Regions from separate parts of the Homo sapiens genome. Here region 2 is linked to region 1. Evidence: fine-mapped expression QTL. Tissue or cell type: whole blood. Region 1 holds a variant in brackets; the other region holds the start of a gene. All regions are shown on one strand. Distances are between the middles of the regions.

Region 1 (2,685 bases):
CATTGTTTTTATTTTATTTTATTTTATTTTTTTTTTAGACGGGGTCTCGCTCTGTCACCCATGCTGTAATGCAGTGACGTGATTTTGCTCACTGCAACCTCCACCTCCCAGGCTCAAGCGATCCTTCCACCTCATCCTCCCAAGTAGCTGGACTACACACTCATGTTGCCACACTCGGCTAATTTTTTTATTCTTTGTAGAGACAGGGTTTTGCCATGTTGGTCAGGCTGGTCTCGAACTCCTGGGCTTAAGTGATCTGGCTGCCTTGGCCTCCCAAAGTGTGCTTTGGTTTTTTAATCATGAGTGTATTGCCTGTTTTTAAAGGTAGCCTAATGAATGAATGACAACATGATTAAAATTAACAAAAGAAGATAATTCATCTCAAGTAAGGAGGTCATGTCACTCTGCCAAAGACTGGCTCTGAAGGACTTCATTTGCTCCAGGCCTTCAGCTACTTATGCAGAGGACTAATAACATGAAGGAACTTTTTTGACATTCTGGCAAAATGCCACTTATTTATATTGTATATGTATATATTTTTCTGTAGATGCCAGAGGAACAAGCATTCTGTGTTTTGGTGAAAATCATGTACGACTATGGTTTGAGAGACCTCTACAGAAACAACTTCGAAGATCTTCATTGCAAATTCTACCAGTTGGAGAGACTAATGCAGGTAAATAAAAATTAGGAACTTTTATCACTCAGGGATTTGTTGAGTCATAGAAAAAGCCTAATAGAGTTGGTAAGCAATAATGAATTATAGAAGTTTAATGGAATATTATAGAAAATGTACATGGATTTAGTTTCAGACCAATATCTACATTGGTCTATCATAATATGTTTATTTAGCCATTTTACTATTTTAAAAATATCTCACATTTTAAATGTTCAAGTTAAATATACTTTGAAGTGAGAATCTAATGAGTTTAATCATTAAGAGATTGCCAAGTATTGTTTGTAGAGGAATGGAGATATTTACAGAGTAAAAATTGAAATACCTAAGAGCTTTCTGCATACTAATTAGCACCACTTCCTTATTTGAGTCCACGTAGAACACTTGGAAAAGCCAGAAAGATATTCATAAGAGAATAAAACATACTAAAATACTGTAGGGATACATTTAAAAATTTTTAAATATAATTCCTAATCTCAATGTTGTTGTTGTGCTTTACAATGCGTATTTATAAATGTGTGTGAGAAACATGCAT[C/T]CTTTTATATATACCAAATATTACACAGTAAAAAAGATTGTGACCACAGGCAAAGTGATTGACCAGAGCTGACAAAAGGAATTTTTAACTAGCTTTGGAGTTCTACCTGAAGTTGATAATCTTAAATTTATAATGGGTTTTTGTGGCATGTTTATGTGACTTTGTTTAAAAGGGGTTTTGGGAATCCAAGAGAAATGTGAAGGAGATACATGGATGGATTGATTCCATATTGGGGAAGGGTAAAATGGTTGAGGAAGGAGGTTCGTGGAATGTGAGAGCAGAAGATGCTAGTAGGAGCTCATTGATATGAACTGCCAGGGGATCCGTAGGTGTCTAAAGAGGGAAGTGAAGCCAGTAGGAGACTGAGAGATTAGAAGAACAGGGCAGTAGAGGATGAATTTGCAGTGAGGTTAAAGGAACAATTTATTGGGAGAAGGGAATGTAGGAGGGTAGAAGACTTTAAAATTGAAAAGAAATAAAAGGAGGCAGGGATGTAAAACGAGCCATAAGTACAATGACAAATGGGCATTAAGGAGGAAAAAGACTATGTAGAAGAATCTGGTAAATATGGATATTAACAGCAATAAGCTCCTTTTTAACGATTTAATTCTACCAAGTAAATATTTGGGATTACTCGCTTTTTGCCTTTTATTTACCAAAAAATTCATATATTTTCAAAGGTCAGTATTCCTAAGGGCTTTGAGAATCAAGTAAATATACCTAATAAATAACAGATGTGTGGTACTATGAAGAACCTCAACCACATTTTTCTGTTAGCAGTTTTTTTTCAGTTAACTGAATGAGCATTTGGACGTTCCATTTGAAGTACCTAATGGGCACATTTGGCTATTTTTCAAAGAGAGCATGTAGTTCAAGAAATGGCTTATTTTGTTTTTTATTCTTCTTTTTGTGGTCTATTTAGGAAAACAAAATGAAGGTGGCCTTTGTCTTTCAGTTATGGTAATAGCTATGCTAATACTTTGTACCTTGCTGTTCATGCTTTTGAAAACCATTTGCTTGTTTAAATTGGGAGAAAAAAATAAAGTTACCATAAAGGCATTTTTAGAAGATATCCAATTTTATATATTATACCTTTGCATAATTTCTTTGCTTTGCCATTTTTAATATGCTGAAGACAGATTTCTAAATAGTTTGTCGTGGCTTAGAATTTTCTAAGTGTTCAAAAAATATACTGAAACATCATAGACCCCAGATTAGATGATTTCCAAAGAGAAGATACATTTCTTTTCTAGCTAGTTAAGAATTGAACCCTGGGCTGGGTACAGTGGCTCACACCTGTAATCCCAGCACTTTGGGAGGCCAAGTCGGGCAGATCACTTGAGGTCAGGAGTTCGAGACCAGCCAGGCTAATATGGTGAAACACTGTCTCTAGTAAAAAATACAAAAAATAATCGGGCCTGGTGGAGGGTGCCTATAATCTCAGCTACTTGGAAGGCTGAGGCAGGAAAATGGCTTG
Region 2 (2,685 bases), 540 kb before region 1:
CAGGGAGGGCCCTTTGGACAAATGTCACGTTTCTCAGAGTAGCTTTTAAATATGGGTGGGAAAATGAGGGCAGGGGAATTGAAGTGGGATAGAAGGGAGATATTTAAACTAAAGTCATTCTATGGCTGCAATCACTGGACACTATATTCACTTATCCATGCAATCACATTCATTGAGTGCTTCCTATGAGTTAGGCAGGGTGCACAGTGTAAGATACAAATGAATGATACAGGTTCACAGCGGTTGTCTAGTGGGATAAAATGCTGCACAGGGCAACCTGGATAAGCCTGACATGTTAGGTGCCACAAAACTACAGAACAAAGTGCTAAGGAGATTCGGAAAATTTACAGGTCATTTCTGGTTGCAGGATCTAGAAGAAGGATGTCCACAATTCAAGGATCAGTACAATCTTCGTAGCGAAAAAGCGTTGGTTTATTCTACCTCTACCTAGTTTGTACCTCAACATCTTTTACCCCAAAGGATAAAAAGGTGCAAATGAGGGCACATTTTCTTCATATAATACGTAATGGTGCTTACTTATTGCTTTCCTGTTCATTCCCCGCAGGTGATTTCCCTCTTCAGTCTCCCCCGAGTCTCACAGAAGGAACTAACAAGGGAGCGCTTCACAAGCACACAGACACCTTCAAACAGGCGCAGAAGAGTACTTGGTGAAAAAGTATTCTTTCAGGTGACTTTCCTTAAGATTACTGAGCATTAAGAATGAAAATATGTAAACCAGGTTTACGAGCAAGAAAATAATCTCTCCACATTCAGAGTTAATCTTCCGAACTCAGCAACTGCCAGTAGAACGCACCCCGGTCAGGGCGGGCTCGCGGGCGCGGTCCCACCCCCAGGCCCCTCCGCCGCGGAGGTTCTCCAGCGCCGCCCGTACTCCCGCCTTTCGCGCGTCCCTGCTCTAACAGCTCTGGTTCTGTCAGGACCTCACTCCTCCGCTCCCGGCGCAACCGCGGCCACGCAGCGACGTGCACGCGCGTGTGCGCCGCCGCCGCCCGGCAGAGTGGGCGCCTCCGACATCAGGAGCGCGCACGCCGCGCAGAGGGGCCTGGACGAGCGCGCTTCCGACCCGCCGCCACCGCCTCCTCCCCTCCTTCTCGGCCCGCCCCCTCCCTCGCCTCTTCCTGCCAGGCGGCCCTTCTCCCCTCCCCTCTCAGTTCCCTCCGCCCTCCTCGGGCTCCAGCGGTGGCGGAGCGAACGGGACCGGCCCGGCTTCAGAGCGCGAGGTGGAGGGTGGAACGCGGGCGCCTGAAGGAGTTGTTGTCTCGGCAGCGCCCGCGGAGACGTGAAGAGGTGAGGCGAGGACGGCCTCCTAGGGACACGAGGGCGGCCCGGCGGCCCGGATCCGCGGGCCGAGGCTGCCTGGGTGTGTTGGCGTCGGGCTGAGCCTGGGGAGGGTCGAGATGGGGCCCCAGCCGAGGACTGGGATGCGGGAGGACCGCGGTAAGGAGGGTAGGGGGCGGGTTCAGGACTGTCGGCCGCCTCCCGGACACCGCAGTTCTCCCAGGTGGCCGCTCCTCGCGGATAGGGCGGGCGGGGTCGGCGCCCTTACCTGGGGGTGGGGTAGTGGCTTTGGCGGCCGCCTCCTCCAGCTGTGCCCTCCTGACATTGCTGCCTCGGCGGCTGCCGCCCGCTGCTACGCTGTGGCTGCTGCTGGATTCGCAGTCCCAGCCGCCCTGCGTCCGGTGGGCGAGTGGTTAGGGTATTTTCTTACCCACACGCAGGCTTCTGTACTCGACCATTTCTCTCCCTCGCCCTTCCTCTTCCTCCGCCGAGCACTTTGCTCGGCTCCTGCTGTTGATGCTTGTGGTTTTGCAGTTTGGGATGGGATGCGTTCCGGGCAGATCCCTACCTGTAGGGAATGCCCCGCTTCAAAGTTGACCTCCTGAGCCATGACAAACACCTCCCCCCAACCCCCACCCACCTTGTGAGTGCTCAGTGTCCTGATAACTGAGTCAAAGTTTCTGAGACTGGGCTAGTACTTTGCACTGGTCGCCAACGGTACAGGGCTGGGCAGTGCGTCAGCATGTGGAAAGGGGCCACCGGCTAGCGGGAGGTGGCCGGGTGCATGGGAGCTGAACTGACGGGTTTCAGATACTAGGCAGTGTGTCCAGGTCCTTGGATCTCTCAGATAGGGTTATATTAGAATATGTACCAAAACTTGGGTGGTCACTTGCAAAATTGGTTTCATGCAAGTAAACTGAAATGCCAGCCTTATTACACTAATGGTAAGGAGAACTTTTGCTTGCCTGACAGATTTCAGCGCAGTTTGGAAAATGATTTTAAGGCCTTTATTTTTGGCACTGGAGGGGTTTAGGGATTTTTAATACATTTAAATTTCCTCGTGCATAGTGGGAGGTAAGTAGTTGCTTGTTAAAATTCTGAAAACACAGTTTCATGAAAACCTTCTGACTTTTCTTACAGTAGTGTTTATATTTGGCATCTTCCGTAGAATATCCATTAGTTATGATGTCAGAAGATACGGATGTGAAGTTTGCTTTTTGTGATCACATTGGAAGTGGATTTTGTTCATGGAAAATACTGGTTCACAAGCTCCTAGTACTAGAAAACTGGCCTGTGATTCATTTTCTCAGTAGAGCGTCCCTTATGAAATTGACAATGAGATTTCTAAGGAGAAAGACTAGTTGAACTTTATGTATACATTATCAT

Evidence for each region. PIP is the estimated chance that this variant, and not a neighbour inherited with it, causes the effect.
Region 2: it holds the start of RABGAP1L, and the variant in region 1 is fine-mapped to the expression of RABGAP1L in whole blood (INTERVAL, PIP 0.93).

What each region holds. Positions count from the first base shown.
Region 1 is chr1:174,698,978-174,701,662 of GRCh38, forward strand. It overlaps RABGAP1L (RAB GTPase activating protein 1 like), which reads left to right. Exons shown (of 26, transcript NM_001366446.1): 16 at 548-673. Among named protein-coding and RNA genes, the nearest start is that of GPR52, 250 kb to the left of the region's middle. The variant C/T (reference allele first, on the strand shown) is at 1,209.
Region 2 is chr1:174,158,350-174,161,034 of GRCh38, forward strand. It overlaps RABGAP1L (RAB GTPase activating protein 1 like), which reads left to right and starts at 1,171. Exons shown (of 26, transcript NM_001366446.1): 1 at 1,171-1,308. RABGAP1L-DT (RABGAP1L divergent transcript) reads right to left here and starts at 938. Exons shown (of 4, transcript NR_121197.1): 1 at 815-938; 2 at 538-641. RefSeq lists silencers at 877-1,276, 1,397-1,576.